Homo sapiens: one gene and its partners. The protein of the gene in region 1 interacts with the protein of each later gene in a biochemical or structural test. Each region holds a gene or a part of one and is shown in the gene's direction. Other genes may lie near its edges.

What was found.
Region 2: the proteins of MAP3K5 (region 1) and PDCD6 form a complex in vitro, tested with the Homo sapiens proteins (one study listed by BioGRID).
Region 3: the proteins of MAP3K5 (region 1) and ARRB1 interact in a test that uses a peptide from one of them, tested with the Homo sapiens proteins (one study listed by BioGRID and IntAct).
Region 4: of the proteins of MAP3K5 (region 1) and MAPK8IP3, one has a biochemical effect on the other in vitro, tested with the Homo sapiens proteins (one study listed by BioGRID).

Annotation. Positions count from the first base shown.
Region 1 is NC_000006.12:136,782,459-136,789,481, reverse strand, and holds part of MAP3K5 (mitogen-activated protein kinase kinase kinase 5), read left to right. Parts: intron 1-3,427; exon of another isoform or gene 3,428-4,067; intron 4,068-5,207; exon of another isoform or gene 5,208-5,435; intron 5,436-7,023. UniProt on the Homo sapiens protein: Serine/threonine kinase which acts as an essential component of the MAP kinase signal transduction pathway. Plays an important role in the cascades of cellular responses evoked by changes in the environment.
Region 2 is NC_000005.10:274,628-281,650, forward strand, and holds part of PDCD6 (programmed cell death protein 6), read left to right. Parts: intron 1-1,384; exon of another isoform or gene 1,385-2,313; intron 2,314-7,023. UniProt on the Homo sapiens protein: Calcium sensor that plays a key role in processes such as endoplasmic reticulum (ER)-Golgi vesicular transport, endosomal biogenesis or membrane repair.
Region 3 is NC_000011.10:75,271,644-75,278,666, reverse strand, and holds part of ARRB1 (beta-arrestin-1), read left to right. Parts: coding exon 1-58; intron 59-1,218; coding exon 1,219-1,303; intron 1,304-1,755; coding exon 1,756-1,828; intron 1,829-4,455; coding exon 4,456-4,593; intron 4,594-5,688; coding exon 5,689-5,772; intron 5,773-6,942; coding exon 6,943-6,966; intron 6,967-7,023. UniProt on the Homo sapiens protein: Functions in regulating agonist-mediated G-protein coupled receptor (GPCR) signaling by mediating both receptor desensitization and resensitization processes.
Region 4 is NC_000016.10:1,758,174-1,765,196, forward strand, and holds part of MAPK8IP3 (C-Jun-amino-terminal kinase-interacting protein 3), read left to right. Parts: intron 1-804; coding exon 805-822; intron 823-1,784; coding exon 1,785-1,842; intron 1,843-2,206; coding exon 2,207-2,359; intron 2,360-3,050; coding exon 3,051-3,132; intron 3,133-4,177; coding exon 4,178-4,308; intron 4,309-4,501; coding exon 4,502-4,558; intron 4,559-4,662; coding exon 4,663-4,833; intron 4,834-5,483; coding exon 5,484-5,610; intron 5,611-5,941; coding exon 5,942-6,037; intron 6,038-6,127; coding exon 6,128-6,286; intron 6,287-6,839; coding exon 6,840-7,005; intron 7,006-7,023.

The DNA of each region.
Region 1 (7,023 bases):
TGCTTCTTTCAACCTAGACAGGTCTCAGTTTAACCCCTGCCCATCTGGATGGCATGAACTCCCAGGATGAGTGCCCTCTCAGTCAGCATGAAAGCATGAAAATGTGACAGAATGAAGGTAGTGCATCAGTTTTATCCAAACCCTTTGTTTCTATTTTATTTTATTTGTTTTAGAGACAAGGTCTCACTCTGTTGCCCAGCCTGGAGTGCAGTGGCATGATCATGGTTCGCTGCTAGCTCGAACTCCTGGGCTCTAGTGATCCTCCTGCCTCAGCCTCCCGAGTAGCTGGGACTACAGGCATGAGCCACCACGCTGGGCTAATTTTATTTTATTTTACTATGTTTTTTTTGTAGAGACGGGGTCTTGCTATGTTGCCCAGACAGGTCTCAAACCTGGCCTCAAGCAGTCCTCCTGCCTTGGCCTCCCAAAGTATTGGGATTACAGGCGTGAGCCACCGCACCCAGCCTCCCATCTTTAAGTTTACTTGTACCCAATGTTTAGCTCCCACTTATGAGTGAGAACATTCAATATCTGGTTTGGTGTCTTTTTGGTAGAACAATTTATTTTCCTTTGGGTATATACCTAGTAATGGGATTGCTGGGTCGAACGGTAGTTCAGCTCTTAGTTCTTTGAGAACTCTCCAAATTACTTTCCACGGTGGCAGGACAAATTTACATTCTCACCAACAGTGTGTAAGTGTTCCCTTTTCTCTGCAGCCTCGCCAACATCTGTTATTTTTTGACTTTTTAACAAAAGCCATTCTGACTGGTGTGAGATGTTATCTCATTGTGGTTTTGATTTGCATTTCTCTGATGATTAGTGATGATGAACATTTTTTCATAAGTTTGTTGGCTGCTTGTATGCCTTCTTCTGAGAAGTGTCTGTTCATATCTTTCGCCTACTTTTTAACGGGGTTATTTGTTGTTTTGCTTGTTGATTTGTAGACCTTTCTTAAATGCGTAGTTTGTGAATATTTTCTCCCATTCTGAGGGTTGTCTTTGTACTCTCTTAATAGTGTCTCTTGTTGTGTAGAAGCTCTTTAGTTTAATTAGGTCCCATTTGTCATTTTTGTTTTTGTTGCAATTGCTTTTGAGGACTTAGTCATAAATTCTTTCCCAAGGCTGATGCAGAATGGTATTTCCTGGGCTTTCTTCTAGGACTCTTATGGTTTGAGGTCTTACATTTAAACCTTAATCCATCTTGAATGAATTTTTGTATATGGTGATAGATAGGGGTCCAATTTTATTCTGCATATGGCTAGCCAGCACCATTTATTGAATAGGGAGTCCTTTCTCCATTACTTACTTTGTTGACTTTGTTGAAGATCAGATGGTGTTAGGTGTGTGGTTTCATTTCTTGAGGTCTCTTTCACAACTTCTCAACTCTGCCCTATTACTCAAGAGCAGCCATAAACAGGACCTAAACAAATGATCATGACTATGTTCCAACCAAACGTTATTCGTGGACACTGAAATTTGAACTTCATATACCTCACAAAGTATGATTTCTTGTTTTATAACCATTTTAAAATGTAAAAACCATTCTTAGCTTGCAAGCCATACTCAAAAACAGGTGGCCCACAGGATTTGGCCCCTGTGCCATGCTGACCTTTGCTCTACACCCATGACCTGTACTTGAAAGTTGAATTTTTATGAGATAGTGGGAAGAACATGGTCCCTCATATTAGATCCGAGTTTTCATCCCAGCTCTGCTGTGAACCATGTAATTGTGAGAACGGCCCTTCATTGCCTCCAGTGGTGTTTCTTTGCCTGTAAAATTGACCAGGGTTAGAAGTGAAGGGGGAATTGAACACATTTTTTTAGGATTCCCTTATTTAATCCTGTGAATTTACAAAGGCAAGGTGGCATGGGATGCAGGCACAAAGCATTAGAACAGCATTTTCAAGGTTTGGCTTTGGGTCCTGATTCTTTTCTAACTTGGAGCAAGTCATTTAAAGCCTCAGAAAAGAGTGGAGTGTTGGAATAATTGGTATCTGAGATTCCCTCCAGCTCTCAAATTCTGTACTTTAAAATGACAGCATTATTAAGACAAATGAATCATTTCAGCTCGTAGAGATTAAATGAACTGCTTGTATATATCATATTCCTGCCCCTGAAGAGCTCAGAGTTGGTGGGGAGGGCAGACCAATGCCTTTGCCTTAGCAGTGCCTCTGTGCCAGGATGCTGGGCTCCCAGGAATCAGCTTCAAAAATCAGATTGAGGATACAGTGGGTTCAAGGGTAGCTTCTTATGCTTGTTTTTTGTTTGCTTTTTTCCTTTTTGTGGAGAATGGGGTCTCGCTATATTGCCTAGGCAGGTCTCAATTTCCTGGGCTCAAGCTATCCTCCTGCCTCTGCCTCCCTAAGAGCTGGGATTACAGGTGTGAGCCACCACACCTGGCAAGGGGTAGCTTCTTAAAGGTGGTGACACCTGAAGTGAAATGGCAGGGTAAGCAAGGAGAGCCTAATGAAGGTCTCAACGTTTACATGGGAAACAGTGATGTTCGAATAGCTCAACCTAACGGAGTGAGTAAGAACTTATTCCCAGCTACTCGGGAGGTTGAGGTGGGAGGATCCCTTGAGCCTGGGAGGCTGAGGCTGCGGTGAGCTGAAATCGTGCTACTGCAGTCCAGCCTGGGTGACAGAATGAGACCCTGTTTCAAAAAAAAAAAAAAAAAAAAAAGAAGAACTTAAAGTTTGGTAACATTTTTAATAAACTTTCCCAATCTTTGTGTACTGATGTCTTTAAAAAGAATAGGTTGCAAGTTAAAGGTTTTCACTGATTTTTTCTTGATCTGTTTACTATTTAACTATATTTTAATTTCTTCTTTGACTACAGTTGTCATTTGCTTTTTCATTTTCTTTCTGAGGTGAAGCTAATGCTCTGTCAATGCTTTTATGAAAATTCATCTTATTTACGTATACAAGAGACTGTCACTCAGAGACAGCAAAGCCAAGCTGACAATACCCCTTCTTTGCCCTCTGCATTGTAGGCAGAAAATTCCGTAAAAGCTAAGAGATGTCAATACTATCGTGTTGCCCTGTGTAGGTGGACAGATCCCAAATGGGAAGCTTTCCAAATTTTTTTTTTTTTTTTTTTTTTTGAGATGGAGTTTTGCTCTTGTCACGCAGGCTGGAGTGCAGTGGCTCGATCTCGGCTCACTGCAACCTCTGCTTCCTGGGTTCAAGTGATTCTCCTGCCTCAGCCTCCTGAGTAGCTGGGATTACAGTCATGTGCCACCACATTCCAGCTAATTTTTTTGTATTATTAGTAGAGACAGGGTTTCATCTTGTTGGCCAGACTGGTCTCAAACTCCTGACCTCAGGAGTGATCTGCCTGCCTTGGCCTCCCAAAGTGCTGGGATTACAGGCGTGAGCCACCGCGCCCAGCCCTAAATTTTTTTTAAAAGACATCAATGCTGCTATTCTCTTGTTTTGCTTATGAAAACACTGAACCGTGAAGAGGTTATATTCATTCATTCAGGTTAAATGTTTGAAGGTTCTTGCTTGGAGCACACTTTTCTTAGAAACAGTATTGCACATGGTGGTCAGATTCTGGGACTAGCCTGTAAGAAGCCTGGTTAACACAGTTTATGGAACCATTCACCATTTTAAACATTCGGGAAAATTCTGTTTCTGAAACCTAAAACCGGGACTTTTCTTGTATTAGAGCAGTGACTTTTGCTTTCATCCACCTCTGAGTAGCATCTTGGCCAGATGTAGGAGAAGCATCAACTTGGAGTGGTGAAGGTGGTGGGGCTGTGGTGAGGAAGGGGACAAAGGGAAGATCAGGTGGCTGCAGGGAGAACCGGGATGCTGTGTGAAGGAGGAGGCAATGCCAGCAGGAGATCCAGCAACACTTTCACTTCCTTTAGGCTTCTTCCCTTTCTACTTCTGGCCGACGTAAGACCCAGGGATGCTGCTGTGCTCAAGGCCACCTCACTCCTTCAGTGGACACAGGGTTAGCTTGGCTGCCTGCTTCCCATTTCCTTACCACCAGCCTTCACATCCGCCCGGGCCTTTCAGCTTGGCTCACTGCAGATTGCAACCGCTTACTCAGCCTTTCACCCTGTAGCAATCATAGGTAACAGGAAGGAAGCACATGCTAGTTAAAATTGTAAGAACTTAGCTTTTCTATTCTCATCCATGGTATGTTCCCACTTTACTTGAGCTTGTGACAAAAGTCGCCCATGTGTTAATATGCCATCTTGCTGGAGAGGCATCTGACCTTGCCAGGCTTTGGCTCCAACTTGCTTCCAGCAAAGCTCCTTAGGACTTCTAATCTTATTTGGTAAAACAATAAAACAAAACAGAACATAACCTTGTATCCCATCTATCCCAGATGGAGAAGTTCTTGAAAATTGTCCAGCCCACTTCTGCATTTCTACTTTCAATATACTTTCCGAGTATATTGTCTCATATATTTTGAAGGAGAGAGTAAAGTCTGTATGTCCTAAATAGTGGTTCCCACGAACCAGTTAAAAAAATTTGGAGGACTGACATGTGTTTGCCAACATTTAAATTTTTCCAAGTAAGAGTATTATAAGTAGAGAAAGTGAGGAAAATCGAGAGAGAGAAAGAGAGACAGAGAGACAAGAAAATCAACAACCAGCCACCTATTGCCATGATTTCTTAAAAAGGAAAGTTTTATGTTAAAAAAAAATTAGTGGGGGACATAACCTTAGAATGAAGGGCAGATCTTCACATACAGAAAATGTGTGCAAAAACTCATGACTTGTTATTTATTTTTCCCATTTCTCCAAGGATGAGTGAAAACTTTATCACACCAGTCAACAGAGTTGTGTTTGAGAGCCTCTGATTGGAACCGCCCTGCAGCCCCTTCCCACCTTTCAGCCACTGCTTCACGTGAGAAACGAACCTTAGTAAAATTATCAAAAGAGCAAACGTAGATAAACTCATAAGGGAAAACTCTAGTTAGGGAAGGATTTTTTAAAAAAATCCCAGTGGTGTCCAACACATGGTTTTTCTCTGAGCTGTTCACGTTCCCTGGCACACCATTGTAGCAGCTGCCACCCACCGCACACAAACTGACAGCACTGCTGCTTCTTGCTTTCTTGGATAATGGGTCAATTAAGGCAAAACTATAATTTTTTTAAAAGAGCTTAACTAGAAAATCGGACGGAAAAAAGCAAAATCAAAAAGAAAACTCCAGAGCACAAAATTAGTTTTTAGAGTACCAATTTCTTACCCCACATCATCAGCTGCATGTTGTCATGACCGGCTCTGCTTCCTGGGCTGCCAGGATCCTGGTTTCTTTCCTTAATTTGGTCACCTGTTGTCTGCTTGAGACATTATCAGTTGGTAGTTCGAGCTGGTTCCATCTCTGGGTGAAGCCTGTGCATTATATAAGCGCATAACACAGGCTTGTCTCACCCGTGGCCTTGGCTGGAGCCAGCCTTTTGGGAGTTCTCTGTTTATAGGGCAGTTCCCCTCTGGTGGCTATAAGAACTGTGCCCTACTTCCTGTTTCAGAGGTCTGGTTAGAGGCCCATTCAGTTCCTGTTTCTGGTTTGCAGGATAAAATTGGTTCACACTTTCTTTGTGGAGCAGTGGGAGATGGACAAGCACAAAGTCCGGGAAATGTGCAAGTCTCTCCAGCATGAGGTACCAACCGTGCCTGCTTTCCAAGTACTTCCTCCAAGTGGTCCCTTCAAACACCACTCCAAGCCAGGAAAGTAGAGAACCATAGGAAAATGCATTATTGGCTACTGACTCCAGGGCTGACAGTGTGCTGTGCAATGATGGCCCCTCCCAGGAGGCCATTCGAGGGCCTTTTATCACACGCTCCCCTTTCTGTCACCCATGGAAGCCTCACTGTGGCTGTAGAACATGCCAGCATTTGCCCCGCTCCACCTGGGGCAAGATGAGAGTGGGAAATGTGGTGGAGGTGGGCAGTGTTGCAGGAACCCACAGCTATGTGGTTATCAGAAGAAACTGGGAACCCACAGCTTTGGGAAAAATATATCTTGAAGACAGCCTCATCTTCCTGTAATTTGGATATAGGTAGGTGGGGAAACTGGCTAGATATGAGAAAGATACCCTCATTTTCAGGGAGTAAAATTAAACTTGAAAATTTTATTAGTGGCATAAAAGGGAAATAAAGGAAATCAAGGCAAAATGATAAATTAAAAATCCATTGGTGACTCTGATATATTGGTTTGTGTAGTTGTGGGTTTTTTTTTTTTTTAAGAAGATCTTGCTCTGTCACCCAGGCTGGAGTGCGTTGGCATGATTTCGGCTCCAACTGCAACCTCCGCCTTCTGGGCTCAAGTGATCCTCCTGCTTTGAGCACAGCCAAGCCTGGCCAATTTTTGTATTTTTATGTAGAGATGGGGTTTTACCATGTTGCCCAGGCTGGTCTCAAACTCCTGGACTCAAGCGATCCTCCTGCCTCAGTCTCCCAAAGTGCTGGGATTACAGGCGTGGGCCACTGCGCCTAGCCTAGTTGTTTTAATGTATTAGTTTTTCTCTTTGGCTAAAGGTATTGACTAGAGACACTAATCGAAATATGTGCCAGGTTAGTGGAAAAGCAGGAAGGATATGAGACAAAGCTGATTTTCAAAATCTTGTCTAAGTGTTCAAAAAATGTAAATAATTGATAACTTACATTTCATATGAATTTTATTTTGTAGTGTTTTTGGTTTTCCAAAGGAAAACAGAAATAACTGAAACTACATTGTGATAATTTTCTTAGGGGAGACAGGAGAGAGAATTTTAAATATTAAGGGCATTTCCTATTTAATAAAATCATAGTAGAGCAGATCTGTATAACTTAAATGCCACAGAAGTTGCACAGGGTAACAGAAAACATTCCACTATAAGCAGACCTTTTCTGTTACAGTAGTTCATCAACAATGAGGAAAGCAATTGCCTTTGGTATATGATTCATACAGGAAGTAAGTTATATTCCTTTGTACTGGCAATCTCCAAAAATGGTTGAGACCAGTTATACCAGTACTTTCCAATACTTGTAGCCTCTTCTACACCCGTGAACTCTTAAGAAAC
Region 2 (7,023 bases), on another chromosome or scaffold:
ATTACCTGATGATGGTGATGATGGTTTCCACTTACTCAACACTCACACGCTGGGCTAGGCACTTAACCCAAATCCAAGGTCAGCATTATTGTTTGGGGGTGGGGGAGACACCTCCTGCTCTGACTTGTGTGTTTGGGTTCCTGTATTTTCACCAGAGGGAGTTAGTCCTGCCCCAGTTCAGCTGGTCCTCAAAGTGTATATAGCTCTTTAACCATCAGCAAGTGTCTATCAGAACATAATCTTGATTTCAGCTGCTACTAAATATCTACCAGGAGACTGCTTGAGAGAATTGCCTGATGGGTGCTGAGTCCACCATTCCTGAGATACTTTGAAATCAGTGGCTTAACCCAAGCTGTGTATCGGGACCCTCTCACCGTGGTCCCAATGGAGTCACTTTTCTTAGGCGCCCCCCTTTACCTTGGGCTCTGAGCTTCCTCTGCCTTTCATCTCTGTGGGATGAAGCCCCACCGCCCTTCAGGATGCAAAGCCCTCTTCTCTAATGTGAGTGCAGGGCCAGGTGCAGTGGCTCACGCCTGACCTCCCAACACTTTGGGAGGCCGAGGCAGGGGGATCCCTTGAGCCCAGGAGTTTGAGACCAGCCTGGGCGACACTGTGAGACCCTGTTGCCTGAATTGCCCTGGGAGATTTCCTCAGCTTGTGCTGGGGGCATGTGGCCCCATGAAGCCCGTAGTCACTGTTCACCCTGAGAGACGCTGGCTTTCGGGCTCACACACCTGCTGCGGGGCAGCCCCAGGAAATGGCCACCCCATTTCTCCTGGAGCTGCGCGTGTTCTCAGAAACTGTGGTGGCCGTTCTGTTTTGTTTGCATCTTATAAACGTTTACCTGATGACATTTTCCTCTTCAATTTAGCTGCTAGAAAATTTAAAGTCAGGTTGGTGGCTCACCAGTAATGAGAGTTTAGAGTAGAAGTAAACTTTATGACATAGTCTTAGACTCTTCACTTTCTTCTCAACCAATATGATTCACATTTACTTTATTTTGCTGTACCGTGAGTGTCTCTGTGTTTCCTGAATTCCTTCTGGAATAAGGCAGGTTGTTAGTAAGCACAGGTTTCTGGTCCATCTCACAGCCTCAGGCAGTGGGCATTGCTGTCGGTGCTCCCTTTCCGGGTTACCTGTGGTAGCTCTCAAGTTGCAGGGCTGCGATTTGAAGCCTGATTTAGTACACCGTGTTTCTGTTGTGTTCTGTGGTGGTTTGCTCCTCACATGTGAGCATTCACCGTGGCCCTGTGTTTTTCCACCACACCTCTGCCTGGTGGCATCCTACTGGATGTCTCAGCCGAGCCACTCTGTTCTGAAGATGCCCTTGTCCTCCACCCCTTTGCTTTGGGCTCTAAGCTTCTTCTGCCTTTCATCTCTGTAGGATGAAGCCCCACCCGCCCTTCAGGATGCCAGCCTTGGCAACATTGTGAGACCCTGTTTCTACAAAAAGTAAATGAGTGTAGTGGTGCACGCCTGTATTCCCAGCTACTTGGGAGGCTGAGATGGGAAGATCACTTGAGCCTGGGAGGTTGAGGCTGCATTGAGCTGAGATCAAGCCACGGCACTCCAGCCTGGGAGACAGAGCGAAACCCCATCTCAAAAAAACAAAGAAAGTGGATGCGCGCTGCTCCTGCCATTGGATCATCGCAGCATTTTTCTTTTCTCTGATATGCACCTTTTTCCTCATCGTGGGGGCTCACGTTTTCATAGTTCCCTCTCACTACTAGGTTGTGAGCTGCGTGAAGGAAGGTTCATAGTTGTGTTGTATGTACAGGCACACAAAATTTGTCCTTGGATAAACACATATCCTCTTCCTTCTTCTCTCTGAATTTCTTTATTTTAAGAAAAAAATTAGAGATGGAGTCTCACTGTCTTGCTCAGGCTGGTCTCAAACTCCTAGGCTCAAGTGATCCTCCTGCCTCAGCCTATACTAATATGAATTCCTATACTAATATGATTGAAATTAGTTTGATTTCTATAATAATTGTGCTCCCAGATTGGGCTTCTGTTTTGATAGTAGAACTAAATTATTAGGCTATTTCAAGAAATTAATATATTACTGGTAGAAAAACTGAAGCTACAAAATGGCCTGGTTTCTCACTTCAGTTAAATTTGTGCTTCTGAGTGCTTGTATTCTAGGTGAAACCACACTGAGAAGGTATTTGTGGCCCATACACTGATTCCTTCATGAGACTTGTTTGCACAGGAGAGCTGCTAAAAATTACTGCTCTCAGGGAGGTCTGTGGTGAACAGGTATGAAGAAGAAGACTGTTCTCTGCCCTTCTTTTTGCAATAAAATGTTCCAAACTATCTTGAGTTTGATCCCTTTTCGGGTGTTTGGGGTTTTTTTAACATTCACATATTTCTTGGAATTATAAGAAATTAACTTTGTGCTTCTGAAGTAGGTTTGCCTTAATATAACACTGATGTATTTGTAAGGGGCATTTTTAAAGCTGTACTTTAAAAAATAATAATTCTTACATTCGTTTGAAGGTTTTTTTATGTGTGTTTTTGAGACAGAGGCTTGCTCTATCGCCCAGGCTGGAGTGCAGTGGCACGCTCTTGGCTCACTACAACCTCCGCATCTGGGGTTCAAGCGATTCTCCTGCCTCAGCCTCCTGAGTAGCTGGGACTACAGGTGCCCACCACCACGCCCAGCTAATTTTTTGTATTTTTTTTTTTTTTTTTTTTTTGAGGCAGAGTCTCTGTCGCCTAGGCTGGAGTGCGGTGGCACTATCTTGGCTCACTGCAAGCTCCGCCTCCTGGGTTCATGCCATTCTCCTGCCTCAGCCTCCCGAGTAGCTGGGACTACAGGCACCCGCCACCATGCCTGGCTAATTTTTTGTCTTTTTAGTAGAGACGGGGTTTCACCGTGTCAGCCAGGATGGTCTCGATCTTATGACCTCATGATCCACCCGCCTCAGCCTCCCAAAGTGCTGGGATTACAGGCGTGAGCCACCACGCCCAGCAATTTTTTGTATTTTTAGTACAGACAGGGTTTCACCATGTTAGCTAGGATGGTCTTGATCTCCTGACCTCTTGATCTGCCCACCTCAGCCTCCCAAAGTGCTGGGATTACGGGCGTGAGCCAGGGGGCCAACATGGTGAAACCCTATCTCTACTAAAAATACAAAATTAGCCGGGAATGGTGGTGCGCGCCTATAATCCCAGCTACTCGGGAGGCTGAGGCGTGAGAATCACTTGAACCTGGGAGGCAGAGGTTGCAGTGAGCTGAGATAGCGCCACTGCACTCCAGCCTGGGGGGCAGTGAGACTCCATCTCAAAAAAAAAAAAAAAAAAGAATAGAATAACCCTTGTTTAGGTGTTAACAAAATCCAGGCCAGACAAATCTAAACTTTAATCTCATACCCAGTTCCTAGATGAGTCCCTTCTCCAGCTCAGGTTCCGCCTAAGCCTCAGGGTTCCTTACTTGGTGGGCACCACCTGCTCCCTTCCCCACCTTTGTCCTCTTTTTCCTCTGCTGGCTCCTCCGGGGTTGGGTGTGTTCAGAGGCAGAGACAGGCTAAAGGTCTTTGGCTTTTAGGTTCTGTTGGTGGGTGAGTTCCAGATATAGCTTTCTCTTGTAGGATATTTCATTTATTTATCTATTAAAAATATTTATTTAGAACACACCATTCATGTGCCAGACCCTGTCCAGGCACTGGGGATAGGGTGATAAATGAGATCAACAAAAATACCTGCCCACATTAAGCTCCTGTTCTAGGGAAGACAGAAAGAAAATACACGTGTCCTTAGTATATTAGAAGATTCCAAGTACTGTAGAGAAAAATAAAGCAGGCTGGACTCGGTGGCTCATGCTTGTAATCCCAGCACTTTGGGAGGCTGAGGTGGGAGGATTACTTGAGCTCAGGAATTTGAGACCAGCCTGGGCAACATGGCAGATCCTGTCTCTCCCAAAAAAAAAAAAAAAATTTAGCTGGGTATGGTGGCGTGCATCTGTAGTCCCAGCCACTGGGGAGGCTGAGGAGGGAGAATTGCTTCAGCCTAGGAGGTGAAGGTTGCAGTAAACCGAGATCGTGCCATTGCACTCCAGCCTGGGTGACAGAGCCAGACCCTGTCTCAAATAAAACAAAAGGAAAGAAAGAAAATGAAAAAAAGAAAGAGATGGGGCAAGCAGGGGAGAGGGCTGGGGACACAGGGGAGGGTGCTGGGGATGCAGGGGAGGGTGCTGGGGACACAGGAGGGTGCTGGGGATGCGGGGGAGGGTGCTGGGGACACGGGAGGGGCTGGGGACATGGGAGGGGCTAGGGATGCAAGCTTTCCTGAGTTCCCACAGTTCTCTGCCCCTCTCCTGTCTCACGGGGTGTGGGCCACCTGTGGCTTGCGGTTGTTTCGCGCCAAGCTAATATCTTGTTCTTCCCAACAGAGAGGCCCGTTGAGGCTTCTCTGTCCTCCATGGGGAACAGCATTGGCCTAAACCTGCAGACACCATTGCAAAGGGAAGTCAGCTCAGGCAAACCCGCTGGTGAAGAAGAATTCCAGTGTGGGGACACAGAGACTGACATTTCTTGCCATGGGTGATTTAATTTTGGGCCTCAGTTTTTCATTCCCCCCTAAGAGTATGACGCAGCCGCATCCTTGCCAGGGCCGGAGGGAGGGTGGATGGACTTATAGGTGTTGCTTGTGGCTGGGTGACTTGCTTCTGCCAACGAGATTTTCACAGACACGGCACAAGCAGAAGCCTGGAATGTGTGGCACTGCCAGGCCTGCCCTCTTAGGCTCTTGATTTTCCCCACGAGATATGCGTGCCCCAGGGAACGGCGGCTCTGGCTGTGGAATGAGAGGCGTGTGGAGCAGGCATGGTTCCCACCCTCAGCCTAGAGTCAAGGCCAGACTAGATCAGCCTAAGCCCAGCCACGCCACGGGTGCAGCAGTGAAGAGCAAATGCCAACTGTCCATGACAGTGACTTTCAAAGGGGCGTGTCATGTGCCTCATCCCAGCAACAGGGAAGGCATTTCTCTATCAGTCAGTTGGTAAATGATTATTGACAATGTGTGGGAAGGTGGAGTTATTTGAGTAGATTTGGCCTCTATTCTCATGGAGCTTCCTTTCTAGAGGGGAAGGCAGATGATGGATGAATAAATATAAATGATTCTAATAGGTTGGTGCAGCAGTCATTAAAAGTAATGGCAAAAAAAAAAAAAAAAAAAAAAACGAGGAGCCGGTGCTGCAGTTCATTAATAGTAATGGCAAAAACTGCGATGACTTGTGCGCCAACCTAACCCAGTAATCACGGGTGTGCAAAATGTGGCGATGGGCAAGTTCCGAGTGCTAGGAGAGCATCTAGCTTCCCGGAGTCAGGAGACGGGGGTTGGCAACCTAACCAAGGTTAAGTCCAAGGGAGGGGGGTGGGCAGGGAGCGATATTTCAGTGGAGACTCCAAGGACGAATGGTATTTAGAGAGTAAACCCCGATAGAGAGGGTTTGTGTCTGGCACAGAGAAGAGCCTGTGCAAAAGCCAGCGGGGCGAGAGGACACCATGTGTTCATCCACCTGAGGGGCGACCAGCAGGCTGGAGCTCAGCGGGTTGAGAGGAGGATGCAGAGCCCGGGAAAGGCACCCTAGGCAGAGGGCACAGCAGGGCAAAGGCCTGGAGTCAGGCCTGAGCCTGTGTGGTTTGAGGAACGGATAGAGGCCTGTCCGGCAGGAAGGGAACAGCACAGGGGAGAGACCTTAGGCCAGAGCAGAGGGCAGGGCTGTGCTGGGCACTGTGGGCTGTGGATGGTGCTGGCATTTAAGAGGGGAGACCATAGACCAGGGCAGAGGGCAGGGCTGTGCCGGGCACTGTGGGCTGTGGATGGTGCTGGAATTTAAGAGGGGAGACCATAGACCGAAGTAGAGGGCAGGGCTGTGCTGGGCACTGTGGGCTGTGGATGGGAGCTGGCATTTAAGAGGGGAGACCATAAGCCAGGGCAGAGGGGTGGGGAGGGCTGGGCCAGGCACCAGAGTGGAGACCACAGGCCAGGGCAGAGGGCAGGGCTGTGAGGGCACTGTAGGCTGTGGATGGGAGCTGGCATTTAAGAGGGGAGTCCATAGACCAGGGCAGAGGGCAGGGCTGTGAGGGCACTGTAGGCTGTGGATGGGAGCTGGCATTTAAGAGGGGAGTCCATAGACCAGGGCAGAGGGCAGGGCCGTGCTGGGCACTTTGGGCTGTGGATGGGAGCTGGCATTTAAGAGGGGAGACCATAGACCAGGGTAGAGGGCAGGGCCGTGCTGGGCACTTTGGGCTGTGGATGGGAGCTGGCATTTATGCTCAAGTGATGGGAATATGTTAAAAGATTTTAAGGAGGGGAGTAACAGTTGGGATTAATGTGTATTCTGGGAATCTCAACAAAGTAAATTCATAGTTCGAATTTTCATAAGACTTCTGCACAGGCAGAGAGAAATAAGATCGCATCTACAGCTGTGTGGTGATTTTCTTTAAAAATACTACTAAGTTTTTAAACGTGATTTCAAATGGTGTGTTTCTGTTTCACATTGGACATAAGTAGATTGCAAGGCTAATGGAAAGTAGAAAAGTTAACTCATGAACATAAAAGAGACATCGATTTGAAAACAAAACATTTATTCATTTACTTCTGCTGCAGTTTTCTTGACTGCTGAATTTCGTAAGAAGGGATTGGTCAGGGAGGGTCTTGGGGCTGAAGACCTGGAGAGGAGCTGGTGCTATCGCTGTTCAAATCTGAAGGTGGTGGAGATGGAGCCTTGGGGAGGAGCCGGTGCTGCCTTTTAAGTCTATGAGAGTCGTTGAGCTGGAGGTCCAGGGAAGAGCTGGTGCTGCCACTGATGTCTTAGGTTGTGGAGCTGAAGACAGTGAAGGAGCTGGTTTGGCTGTTCTGTGAGGGTCGTGGAGCTGGAGATCCAGGTGGGAGAGGTGTTCTAGTTTGAGGGTCATGCAGATGGAGATCTGTGAGGAGCTGATGTTATTTTAATTGGTGGGTCGTAGAGCTGGAGACCAGGGAGGAACTGGTGTGGTTCTAGTTTGAGGGTTGTGGAGC
Region 3 (7,023 bases), on another chromosome or scaffold:
CAGGCAGTTCCTCATGTCGGACAAGCCCTTGCACCTAGAAGCCTCTCTGGATAAGGAGGTAGGAGGCTCGGACTTGGCAGGGGGTGGGGGCTGCTCCACCAGGGCCTGGGCCTCAGATCCCAGCTCTCTCCTGGCCTGCAAGGATGCCTCAGGTAGGAGCTTCTATCCCCAGCCCAAGGACCACAGGGGTCAGGGAATCTGAGACCTCTCATGGGGGATTTGGAGAAGCCTCTTGGGCCTAAAGGAGTGGCAAAGGGGGCATGAACTTGAGAGATGTGATGGACTTCCGAAGTGAGGAGCAGACCTTCCTGAAGGTCCTGGACATCTCCCCCACACCTCCACCAGCTGCCTGCCTCAGGCCGAGTGCTGAAGGTCAACCAGCATTGCAGAGGGGGCACGGTGGGGGGCCGTGACCTTCCTGCCAAACACTGAGCGTCAGGGCGACAAGCCCTGCAGAAGGAAGGGCCTCCCCTCAAACTCTGAATCAAACCCAGCTGACTGCTGTGAGCTTAGGCTGGCCCCTCCTCAAGGTGTGGGCACCCCCTCTCTCTCGGGGCATGGCTGAAGGGAAGTGCCTTGGGGCAAGATGCAAGTTGAGGTCTTTTTGTAGGGATTCAGAGCTGGCTCCCTCAGTGAGCTGGTGAGCCCATCCTCACCTTTCCCTGCTTCTTCCAGATCCTTCTGTGGACAGAATTTAGAGCTGGCAGGGACTTCAGACATCACCTAGTCCAACCCCTTCGTTGCACAGAGGGAGACCCTGAGGCTTAGATAACCTACCCACGGTCACACTGCTTTCATCATCGTCAATGTTATTGTTGTTATTGTTGTCACAATTACTGCTGGCCAAGCCAGGGCTGGAGCCCAGGACTATCACCTTCCAATTCCGTTATCTTTCAAGGGTCCCACCAGGGAACTGAAGGCTAATGTGCTTGGTGGCTTTCATGCCACCTTAGCAGCAGTGGGAAGTGGCTGATGAACTTGGGGCAAATGTCACAATGCCTTGGGGGATTCGGAGAAGCCTCTTGGGCCTAAAGGAGTGGCAGAGGGGGCATGAACCTGAGGGATGTGATGGACTTCAGATGGGAGCAGCAGACCCTTCTGAAGGTCTGCGCAAGGTCTGGGGAACCCCAGAAGATCGCGTGGGGGCTTTTCTCCCTCCCCTTTCCCTAGAACCTTGCTGTCCTCCCAGCCAACCCCGTCCCTTCTTATGCCCCCCAGATCTATTACCATGGAGAACCCATCAGCGTCAACGTCCACGTCACCAACAACACCAACAAGACGGTGAAGAAGATCAAGATCTCAGGTATCCCAGACAGAGGGTCAGCTTAGGGGACAGCGAGAGGCAATCTTCCCAAGGGCTGGGGGTGGCTGAAGTATCTCCCCTTGTTAACAGCCTTGTATAAAAAATAGCCACTGAAGCCCAGGGCCTGCTCTGAGCCACAGGGCAAAGCTTTTGAGTTGGGTAAGGCAGGCTGCTTATTGGCTAGGTAATGAGTTTGCTCTTTAAGCCACCTCTTCAGTTTCTTGGGTTCTGGACAAAGCTGTCCTTGAGGGGAAGGCTTTGGTTATGGAAGGAAATGGGTGTGTTTGGGGCTACCCTTTGGATGTAAGACAGGGGTGGTCTTATGCAGAAGTCCCCACTGGTGGCCTCTGGCCATTGCCTGGGGCTGAATATCCCCAACCCGGGGACGCCTGTGAGACTCCATGGGAGCTACATTCCCGACTCACTCCACCTTGATTCCTCTCCCTCCCTAGTGCGCCAGTATGCAGACATCTGCCTTTTCAACACAGCTCAGTACAAGTGCCCTGTTGCCATGGAAGAGGCTGAGTAAGTGGGCACAAGTCTGGCCTTGGGCGTATGGGATTGGGTGGGAAAAAGAGAAGCTCTAGGTGTCCTGTTACAGGTCCAGGTGGCTCTTCTCCACCTGGCAGAGGGCTGGGCCTCAGACTTCCTTGCCACTCAGAGTAGATGATCCCGAAGAGCCTTTTAGAAACCATCCACCTGATTTAGCTTCAAGAAAATGCATGCTACAGTCAAGGAAGAGACCCACTAAAACTAGAGTGACAAAACAATAGCTAATGAATGTAAGGGGATTGGGGTTGTGAGAAGAAATAATTACGTTGTACAAGAAACCTAGGTTGAAGGGAAATACTTTGTTCTTGGCTTCCTGGTAGCCAGGGCAAAGTGGGTAAGGCACTAGGTACACAGCTCTTGTCTGATAAAGGGGTAATCCAACTCATTGGGAAAAAGGGGTTGTGTGTGGGAGTGCAGAGAATAATTACACACAAAAAAATCATCTAGGTTTGAGGAGAACTGCTATGGTTGAGCATGGATCGAACTTTGTCCCAGGCTTGTTGGCAGCTAAGGCAAGTGGAGAGATCTGAAGTGAAACATCTTTACTTACCTAAAGGAAGTAAATGCTCCCATTCAAAGACATACACATTTTTTTTTCCTGGCCCTGCAAGTAATTTCTTGGGGCAATTATACCTGATATAATTTTACATGTATATGTGTATTTGTTTATGTATAATTCCAATCAGTATTTCTTGCAACTGAAAATATTTTTAAAATGTTACTACATGGCCTTTGAAATAGTTTTTAATGTCCTATAGGTGAACATGCTATGATTAGATCAAGCTTTCTCTGGTTACTGGATATTTTTCATATCCACTGTTGATTTTTTCAAAAAAATCAGAGCTATGAGGCATAGATTCCTGATGGTAAAGTGAAGTGATCTAGAACCAGAGTAACATATAATCCCTAAAGAGTAGAAAATCCCAACCACTGCAGATGGTGCCAGCGTCTGCATAACGAATACCAGCAGGGATGGCTGGGGAGGCATTTGCACTCACAGACTTGTTTACTTCTCAGGAAGCGCTGTGGGGCTGGGGTTGCTGCTGCCCCAGTATGTAGAGGAGGAAGTGGCTCAGAGAGATGTGACTTGCAAGTTAGCAAGCAGCAAAGCTGGGGCTGGAACACGGTCGTCCGACTCCAAGGCTTGTTCACTATCTGCTGCATGACAGCTCTCTCATTGGAAAGGATGGGGGATAGAGCAAAAGCAAGTAAAAATTGGACAATCAAAACACCCTATATATGATGGATGTGATCAAGCAAGTAAAGTTTTAATTGTTGAGCCTAGATGGTGGGTATATGGGTGCCCAAATAGCTTCATTTATGGTTTATGTGTAGCTATAATTTTTTCTTTTTAAAATGTGTTTAGAGACAGGGCTGGTGCTCACGCCTATAATCCCAGCACTTGGGGAGGCTGAGGCAGGCAGATCACTTGAGGTCAGGAGTTTGAGACCATCCTGGCCAACATGGCAAAACCTCATCTCTACTAAAAATACAAAAATTAGTCGGGCATGGTGGCGCGCCCCTGTGATCCCAGCTACTTGGGAGGCTGAGGTAGGAGAACTGCTTCAACCTGGGAGGTGGAGGTTCCAGTGAGCCAGGATCGCACTACTGTACTCTAGCCTGGGCGACAGAGCAAGACTCTGTCTCAAAAAAATAAAATAAAATAAAATAAAATAAAATAAAATAAATTTAAATTAAATTTGTTTAGAGACAGAGTTTCACTCTGTTGCCCAGGCTGGAGTGCAGTGGTATGATCATGGCTCACTACAGCCAGCCTCGAACTCCTGGGCTCAAGTGATCCTCCTGCCTCAGCCTCCCAAGTAGCTAGGACTACAGGTGTGCACCACCATATCAGGCTAATGTTTAAAATTTTTTGTAGCGATGGGGTCTTGCTATGTTGCCCAGGCTGGTCTCAAACTCCTAGCCTCAAGCAATCCTCCTGTCAGCCTCTCAAGTTGCTGGGATTACAGGCATGAGCAACTGTGCCTGCTGTGGCTGTACTTTTTTTTTTTTTTTTTTTGAGATGGAGTCTTGCTCTGTCACCCAGGCTGGAGTGCAGTGGAGCAATCTCGGCTCACTGTAAGCTCCACCTCCCAGGTTCATGCCATTCTCCTGGCTCAGCCTCCTGAGTAGCTGGAACTACAGGCGTCCACCACCATGCCCGGCTAATTTTTTTGTATTTTTAGTAGAGACGGGGTTTCACCTTGTTAGCCAGGATGGTCTCCAACTCCTGACCTCGTGATCTACCCGCCTCGGCCTCCCAAAATGCTGGGATTACAGGCGTGAGCCACTGCACCCGGCTGGCTGTAATTCTTTAAATAAATGTGCTTTTTAGCACTGTGCTGCTTGACTAGGATAATCTTTTAGAATATCCGAGATTCAGTCCTGTTTGTGCGTAGAATGTAGATGTGCCTCTTTTGAGTGGCAGTGGTCTCCTTGCCCGAGCTGGGCTGGCCCAAGTGGTCCGTGTGTCTGGGGGACAGAGGTTGGGAGAGGGAGACTTGGAGCAGGCTCAGACTAGATATTCTGCTGGGCTGGAGATCAGGGCTGGGGTTGGCTCTGGGGAGGGCCATCTCCACAGCTGCTTCCTTTCTTCCCAGTGACACTGTGGCACCCAGCTCGACGTTCTGCAAGGTCTACACACTGACCCCCTTCCTAGCCAATAACCGAGAGAAGCGGGGCCTCGCCTTGGACGGGAAGCTCAAGCACGAAGACACGAACTTGGCCTCTAGCACCCTGTGAGGACCTGCCCTCCTAGCCCTGGGCTCCTAGTGCATCTTGCCTGATGGGGCCACACCCTCCTTGGTCCCCCCAGTTCAAAGACAAGGCTCAGGCTACCCTCTCCATAGCCTTGTCAGGGCCTGTCCTCAGGTGCTTGACTTGTCAGGGAAGCTGCCTCCTTACTCCCAACCCTACCCAGGGGTGACTGAGAGAATAAGATGGACCACTAGGCCAGCTCACTCAGGCAGTGCTGGGCTCTGCTACCATGCCTGGGGGAGGGCAACCTGGGAAGGCTTCCTGCAAGAGGTGGCAGCTTCTGACGTAATGCCTTCAGTCAGATGGGGTGTCCCTGAGGAGAGACCAGGGTGGTGAGCTGGGTTAGACCCAACATGGGGTGCCCCTCCAAGTCAGGGGTCCCAGGGCATCTGGTCACTCCTGCTGCACAGTCATCGTGGACGCCTCTAGGCTACTCTGCTCCAGCAGAGCCCTGGCTATGGGGATGCCATCTTGCCCTCTTGCCAGTGTGGTCCTTCAGTGGGGCTTTGGCCTACGTCTAGAGCAGCCGCCACTCCCAGCACAGACTCAGCTCTCTTCAGCAGCCCCTGCACAGCCTCCCACTTACCTGAAGCTTTTTGCCCTGTCTCCACCCTGGCTCACACCCTACCCATCTTCAAGACCCAGCTGAAGCACCACCTCTGCGGAGAAGTCCTTCTCTGATGGCCCCCACCCCACCCCACCCCAGCTGCCTCGCCCTCTGTGAACTCCCCGTGTGGCCCTTTCTGCCCATGGGTTGCTGAGAGAAGCAGAATCCATCTGAGGGGAGGAGGAGCCTGGCCCTCATGGCGGGGACGCTGGCCTGGGCAGGGAGAGGGGCTCAGCAGGGCCACACAGTGAGCGAGTCTCACAGTCAGACTTGGAACCGGGGCTCTGGGTCCCTGCTACCTAAGGGCACTGCTCGCCTTCCTCATCTCCACTGGGCTCTATTGGACATGGTAGCTGAGTGGCTAGCCAGATGGGGGATGGACGGCCACTGCCCCCCAGCATACCCACCCCTGAGGTGTCTCGCCCACCTGGCAAGGCCCCTGAACTGGCTCCCCTGTGTCACTTTGCAGGTTGAGGGAAGGTGCCAACCGTGAGATCCTGGGGATCATTGTTTCCTACAAAGTGAAAGTGAAGCTGGTGGTGTCTCGGGGCGGGTGAGTGCTCCAGCCAAGCCCAAGACCCCGGAGTGCAGAGGGGAGCGTCCCAGGTGCCCACAGGCCCCTGCCCCATTCTGCCTGTTTGCAGCCCTTTTAGCTGCATCCACCTTGGAGGAGGAACCTCCTGTCCCTTCTTTTCCTCCCTTCTGTTCCTCTTTCTCCCCCGCCCGCTTTCCCTCTCTTCCTTCCTTGGCCCTCAGCCCCTCTCTTACCCCCACCCATCTCTTTCTCTCTCTCCTCCTCCTCTATCCTAGGTCTGGGCTCGCACTGAGGATTGGCCATGCCCAGGGGACGGCGTCCTCAGAGTCTTTGCTGTGGGGTCCCCAGGGGTGCCATCTCCTTATCACACTTTGGGCATAGCACCCACCCCCATGCATGCCCAAGCTGATTTTCTGAGGAAACAGCTAAAAGGGCTCAGAACCCAGAGCTGGATTGGGGATTTGCTAGTCAGCTTTCCCATTTTACAGATGGTGAAACAGAGGCCCAGACAGTGCCCCAAACATTGCCTGAAATCTCCTCTCCTAACTCAGGTCATAGTGGTGGACCAGACTGCCCTGCCCTGGAGCATAGTTTGGTGGAAGCTCAGGGAGAAAAACAAACAAACAAACTACTGTGTTTCTTTTTTGTAACTTAATTCATAAATTTCTATGAAAAGATTGAAAAGCTAAATCCCATTAGACATTGGGTCTCCTTGATTATTAGAAGAATGCCTCTTGGCAGGTGGCAGTATGTAATCCTGACCTTATATAATAGGACATCTCAAAATTACAAATCCCAAATCCTGTGTCTGGTGACCTTTCAGGACCCACAGTCCCTCAAACATTCTTGGCAACCCCGGAGTCCTTCCCTCTGCCTTTAGATAGTCCGGCCTCCCTTGGGACAGGCAGCACTGGGGTTAATTTTTACACTGCCTTGACAGATGAGGATCCTGGGGCTCAGGGGTTTGCTGAGCTGGGTCTGGATCCCAGTCCCTCGGGGCAGGGCTAATGCCATTTCGGTGTATCCCTGAAAGAGCAGTCAGGGCTGTGCAGGGGGGTGGGTGGGAGTGTGTCCCGTGGGTCTTCTCTATCCGGGGGACAGCAGAAGTGGTGAATGAATGTGCTTTTTGTTTTCTTCCTCTCTGAACTCTCTCCTGACCACTTCTCCTGCCTCCTCTGACCCACCCAGCCTGTTGGGAGATCTTGCATCCAGGTAAATTCCTCCCTTCCACCTGGTTCACCCACCTTCCTGGAGGGCCTGGAGCCCATT
Region 4 (7,023 bases), on another chromosome or scaffold:
CTCCTGTCTGTCTCCCCTCTGTGTGACGGGGGGAGTGGGTGGACGGGGGATGCCCCGAGCTATCCCGTCACCGTGGCTGTGTGGACTGCCCCCCACGTCGCCGCAGCGCCTCTGCTTCTGCTCGCAGCCACCGCCGCTCGGAAGCTTGTTCGGTTTGCTCCACCAGCCACTTGACAATGACCTGGATATCCAACCCCCCCAGCCTGAGGAGTCCCCCGCGGGCCATTTCTGAAGGCCCTGCGGAGCCCTAAGCCACGCACGGCAGTGACTGGACATGGCCAAGGCCAGCTCTGGGGCCTCCCCTGCTGTCAGGCACACCCCAGAAGTCAGGGGTCCTTGAAGCCCCTACGAAGCCCAGCCCGGGGTCCCCTCCCCACGTGGGTGGACAGGCCGAGTCCTGCTCTCTGGCTGCACAGCAGGAGGCTCCGAGGCCCCACCCAGAGGCTGTCCAGATGCAGCCCCCCAGCCTCCAGGCACAGCCCATCCCCACAGGGGTGCCTTCTGCCCTCAGCCCCACCCAGCCCAGAATTTGGGGTGAGATGTTAGCTTCCTGCTCCACAGGTGACACTGGCCTGGCAGTCTTCATGTAACCCCAAGGATAAACTTTCCAGAAGGAATAGCTGGCTCCATCCCATCTCCTGCCCTCCTAACTCCCTCCTGCACCCACCCTAACCCAGCAGACCCAGCTCTGAATTCCTCCCAGCCTGCTGTCCACACGGGCTTAACGCGCTTCTCTTCTCTCCCTTTCTCCCTCTCCTCCCGCCCTGGTTGCCCATCTCCTGTGGGACGGGGACGGCTCCCTAGTGCGCGATGATTTCTTTGGTAAGGCTGAGGCCCCGTTCCAGCGTGCGTCGCTCCTCCACCCCGACATGGTCTCCTGCTTCATGAGCCGTTTGCTTTGTTCTGCATGATGGGGACAGTGTTGGGGCCGCCGGGGTCAGGGGGGCAGCCCTGAGTGAAGCTCGCTCTGTCCAGGCTGCCTCTGGGCTGTGGGAGGTGGCGACTTCCCCAAGGGACAGACTTGAAGGCCCGAGGAGGGCAGCCCCAGCCTCTCTGAACCCCACAAGCGCCGGGCAGACCCTGCCTGTGGGGAGGAAGGCCCATGTTTGAGGCAAGGGAGGTCATAATAGAGACAGCAGGCAGGACCCCTGAGCCCAGGCACAGAGGCGTGTGATGCTGTTTCATGACTGCATACACAGTGGGGGAGTGTGTGGGAGGGCAGGACCTTGGAGTTTCTTTCCATCCTTTTGGGGTTTCTGGGGCATGCTTGCAGGGAGATCAGTCCAGGTCCACTTGGGGCCTCGTGGTAGAGGAGCCTTCAGTCCTGCCAGGGAGCCCTGTCCTCACAGCCGCGCCCCATCGCCGCACCCCAGCCCTGCTGGCCCTGCCGTGAGGGCCAGGCCTCTCCTTGCCCACCTGTCCCCTCACCGCAGCTCCAACATCACTCGCCTAGGGTGGTGGCTCCGAGAGGGCCTGCCTGGTGACAGACCTGCTGGGGGCACTGAGATGGCAGCCCAGCGGCCATTCAGGGGCCTGCGTCCGGCCAGCTGGCCTGTGACATTGGTCGGACATGAGAACCACCCCAAGGCCTGGGAGCCTGCTCTGTGCACAGACTGCGGGCCCAGCATGAGCCCCGCCCTTCACGGCCCCCGCTCCCTGTAGATCGGGCGTCATCCCCAGCCAGGCTACCCTCTTTGGAAGCGTTGTTGCCCTGAGGCAGGTGCGGCGGCATCAGTGACCTGTTTTGAAGGGCACAGGTGAAACCTCCGCACCTTCTGTTTCAGGAATGGGCAAAGAAGTGGGGAATCTGCTACTGGAAAACTCACAGCTTCTGGAAACCAAGTAAGAGTGCCCTTCTCCTGTGTGGTGGGGCTGAGGCAGCCCTCCTTGTCAGGGCTGGGAGAGTGAGCCGGGCCAGAGGGCGCCTTGGGGAGCACCTGGCTCCAACGCCAGCAGCTGTCCTCATCTCTGGCGGGAGGAACTTGGAGCAGGACTCTGCCTGGTTTCTTTACGAAGCTTGTCTCCAGGAGCCTCTAACAAGGGTGCTATAGGGTTTAGCTAAGATGGGGATGGGGTCTCCCATTCAGCCACCTTCCTAACCAGGCTGTGCCTTCTCCAGGGCGGAAGTGCAGGCGCCCCTGGCAAGGCCCCTTCACGTACCTGTATGCCGCGCCCGTGGCACTCCCATCTTTCTGCTTTTTCAAAGAAACGCCTTGAATGTGGTGAAGAATGACCTGATTGCCAAGGTCGACCAGCTGTCCGGGGAGCAGGAGGTGCTGAGGGGCGAGTTGGAGGCTGCTAAGCAGGCCAAAGTCAAGCTGGAAAACCGTATCAAGGAGCTGGAAGAGGAACTGAAAAGGTGAGGGCAGGGCATGGAAAGCTGGTCAGAGAGGGACCCCGGCCTCAGGGCTCTGGAGTGGCTGCCTCCTCCAGTGCCTGCTCTCCAGCCTGAGCGGCTCTGTGCATAGCCTACCTACCTCCAGCTCCAGCTCACAGCCACTCCACCCCAACCAGCAGAGTGGGGCCGTGGTCTCCTCCTGAGCCTCCTACAGCACACGCTGGGCCTGTCTCACGCGTTCCTTCTCTGCACAGCTCCCACCATCCCACTCCTCCAGCCCTTTGATCAGCCAAGGTTTGGCCACGGCCCCCGGAGAGCTGTATGTTGGGGCTCCAGCCCTTCTCTGATGGACAGAGGAGGTGTGGGCGCTCCGAGACCATGCCTCTGCCTAAGAAGGGACCCAGATCTGCTCTGGGTTTGCCAAAGCCAGGGCCCCTCTGCTTTGCTCCCCCTCCGCATTCCCGGGCAGCCAGGATGGACGGCTGGGCTTCAGAGCACTCATGCAGCAGTGGCTCAGGGCCACCTGTCCCCAGGGAACTGGAAGAAGCGTTCAGGGCCCTGAACCAAACGGCTGCTGAAGGGGTCCCTGTGGGGAGAGCCCCCAGCCCTGCACAGAGGCAAGGACACAGGTTCGGGGCGGGCACTGCCCGCTATGTGTTCCCGAGGCCCCTGGGAGGCCCTCACCCTCCCTGCCTCCTTCCCCTTCCCACAGAGTGAAGTCCGAGGCCATCATCGCCCGCCGTGAACCCAAAGAAGAGGCGGAGGATGTAAGCAGCTATCTCTGTACAGAATCGGTACATCCACTCTTCACTCTTCACATGCGGGGCGTCCACCATTCACTTTTCACAGGCGGGGCGGCCACCGTTCACCATTCACACACAGGGTGACCACCATTCACCATTCACAGGCAGAGCGGCCACCATTCACCATTCACAGGCAGAGCGGCCACCATTCACCATTCACAGGCGGGGCGGCCACCATTCACCATTCACAGGCGGGGCGGCCACCATTCACCATTCACAGGCAGGGCGGCCGCCATTCACCATTCACACACAGGGCGACCACCATTCACCATTCACAGGCAGAGCGGCCACCATTCACCATTCACAGGCGGGGCGGCCACCATTCACCATTCACAGGCGGGGCGGCCACCATTCACCATTCACAGGCGGGGCGGCCACCATTCACCATTCCCAGGCGGGGCGGCCACTGTTCCCACACATTCACACGCCGGGTGACCACTGTTCATACGCATTCACACGTGGGGCAGCCATCATTCCCACACATTCACACGCTGGGCGGCCACCATTCACCATTCACCATTCACACACAGTATATCCTACTATTCACACTCGGGGCATGGGGATGCGGGGTGCCTCCCGGGGACTCACCGGCGCTTCTGTCTCTGTACAGAATCAGTATATCCCACAATTCACATGCAGGGCTGGGGTGGGCACGGGCAGGGGGCCCAGGCGGGCTCCTGGGGACTCGCCGGCTGTTCTGGGCTGACAGCTCTCCCACCCCTCCTGGGTGACACCTGACCCCAGCGGCATCATCTGCCACCCCACTCCTGAGACCACATGGAGTCAGAATCAGGCCCTTGGGCAGGACCACAGCCCTGGCAGGATGCCGGGTCCCCTGTCAGCACCCAAGTCCTGGTGCATGCCTTTTGTATGGTTCCCCTCCCCGCTTGCCGACACCCCTCCACACCGCTTCTTGCCTGAGGATCTGAAGGAAATTGGCACTGAGATCCACCTATACGTGTAGGCACCCCAGGAGGAAGCAGGTGTCACCCGGCCTCCGAGGGCTGGCTGAGCCTCTGTGCCCCTCCCTCCGCAGGACAAAATCCCCATGGCCCAGCGCCGCCGCTTCACGCGGGTGGAGATGGCCCGTGTGCTCATGGAGCGGAACCAGTACAAGGAGCGGCTGATGGAGCTGCAGGAGGCTGTGCGGTGGACTGAGATGATCAGGTGGGAGTTGCGGCCACCCCAGGAGGGGCTGCGGGATCATCCCTGACGGCAGGACTGCGGCTCCCTCCTCTGCACCTCCCTGTCTTCTGGGGGGACTGAAGTGCGCTGGGTGCTTCCTGGCGGGAGCCAGAGAGTCGCAGGTAAGGGAGGCGTGAGGGCACTAGCAGGTTGCTCCCTGTGCCCTCCCCTGCAGAGCGTCCCGAGAGCACCCATCCGTCCAGGAGAAGAAGAAGTCGACCATCTGGCAGTTGTAAGCTGGGGGCCCCTGGGGGATGTGGGCAGCAGCTGCAGGGGAAGGGGCAGGGAGGTTCCCTGGTCCTCTGCCCACCCCTCACCTCCCTGTGCCTCTGGCAGCTTCAGCCGCCTCTTCAGCTCTTCCTCCAGCCCCCCTCCGGCCAAGCGCCCCTATCCCTCGGTGAACATCCACTACAAGTCACCCACCACTGCCGGCTTCAGCCAGCGCCGCAACCATGCCATGTGCCCGATCTCGGCAGGCAGCCGGCCCCTGGAATTCTTCCCTGACGAGTGAGTGTCCCGCAGCCCCCACTTGTGGCCTGCAATGGGGTTGGGGAGGCCCTGTCCTGAGGCTCCTCCCCTCCAGGCCCTGAAGCGGGACTTTGAGGGCAGCCTCCACCTTGCTGGCCACATGCCAGGGGCCGTGACCTCTCCCTGCACACTGCCTGCCCCTCCCTGCAGCGGGGAGCTGGGCTGCTTTGGCTCCACGGTATTTGGTTCAGGATGTCCCTTGGCAGAGGCTGTGCCCACCAACAGTCAGGGGGCTGTGCTGGGCTCCACGGTGGCCTCTGCAGCAAGGAGCCGTTTCAGGCGTCTGTCCAGCAGGGAGTCGCTGGTCATGCCTGTGCCCCGGCGGCACTCCAGGTCCCGGTCTGTGGAACCCTCAGTGACTGTGGCAGCAGAGCAGCCTCTGGGTCGAGCAGGGGCCAGCTGTGGCCTCCAAGCCCAGGGGCATAGCCGGTGCCAGGAAAGCCACCCTTCCCAGCTGGGCACCCAGTGCCGGGAAAGCCACCCTTCCCAGCTGGGCACCCGGTGGCCGGGAAAAGGCGAGGATGGGCCCAGGCGGGCCTCCCTGCCGTGACCTCCCCCAGGACAAGCCTGGGGCACTGTGGGGGCCGCTCACCCTGGACAGAGACATCACCCATCATTCTTCCACTCAGCGACTGCACGTCCTCCGCCCGTCGAGAGCAGAAGCGCGAGCAGTACCGCCAGGTGCGTGAGCACGTGCGTAACGACGACGGCCGTCTGCAGGCCTGCGGCTGGAGCCTGCCCGCCAAGTACAAGCAGGTGCGGGCGGGCGCTGCGGGGACCGGGCGGGGCCCCGCAGAGGCGGGGCGGGGGTAAGGGGCGGGGCGCTGTGGGGCGGGGAGAGGGCGGGGCAGTGCTAGGGGGTGGGAGAGGACGGCGGGTGGGGCGGGGCCTGGCAGGTTCCTAGTGAGCCTCCTGGGCAGGGGTCTGGAGGGTCGGAGAAGGAGCCCCGCGGCTCCCACGCCCCCACCTGCCTCCAGTCTTGAAGTGGCTGTGCCGCCAGAAGCTGGCAGCCCTACCTGTCTCAGATTTCTGGAGGGATGGGTAGGAGCCAGGGTTCGTGCCCACGGCGCCTCCCTGCTCCCTGCAGCTGAGTCCCAACGGGGGCCAGGAGGACACGCGGATGAAGAACGTGCCGGTGCCGGTGTACTGCCGCCCTCTGGTGGAGAAGGACCCCACCATGAAGGTGAGCCCGCGAGGACCCCGCTCAGGCTGGCTGGGCGAGCGGGAGGCTGGGGAGTGCCGGTGACACCCGACCTCGGCCCTGCCCTTGCAGCTGTGGTGTGCCGCGGGCGTCAACCTGAGCGGGTGGAGGCCCAATGAGGACGACGCTGGGAATGGAGTCAAGCCAGCGCCAGGCCGCGATCCCCTGACCTGCGACCGCGAAGGAGACGGCGAGCCCAAGAGCGCCCACACGTCTCCCGAGAAGAAGAAGGTGAGCATGGCCGAGGCCACCGGGCACCCTCCCTGGCTTAGTCTCAGGACAGCTCAGCTGCAGAGCATGCTGGGAGTGAGACACAGGACAGCTGGGGACAGCACCCGGAAGCAGGGCAGCGCAGGGGCTCCTAGACTGCGGGAAGCAGTGTCTTCCCTCACCAGGACTGAGCCGCCTTCTGGGTTTTCAGTTTTCACCCCCCAGGTGGCCTGGAGTGGGCCTGCACTGGGCTGCAGGGGTCAGGCAGGCAGCAGGCACAGAGGAGCCCAGGAGCGGCAGAGCTTGCCTCCCAGTGGTGGGAGGCTTAGTTTTATGCCCAGCTTGGGCCTCTTGGAGCTCAGGGGCCTCTTCTGTGGAGGCGAAACCGTGTCTGTGAGTGCTTTAGAGTGCAGTCCTGAGTCCGCATTGTTCTGGTCCTGGGGGAGGACAGCCATGTCCCCTCAAGCTGTAGTCAAGGCTGGATCCTGACAGATTCTGGGAGCCCCATGGCCCTGTGCTGCCACCGGGTAGCCTCAAGCTCGGGCTCTGACCTTGATCCCGTGCCCTGAAACAGGCCAAGGAGCTCCCTGAAATGGACGCCACCTCCAGCCGGGTGTGGATCCTGACCAGCACCCTGACCACCAGCAAGGTGGTGATCATCGACGCCAACCAGCCGGGCACGGTGGTGGACCAGTTCACCGTCTGCAACGCGCACGTGCTGTGCATCTCCAGCATCCCCGGTGAGCAGCTGGAGTGGG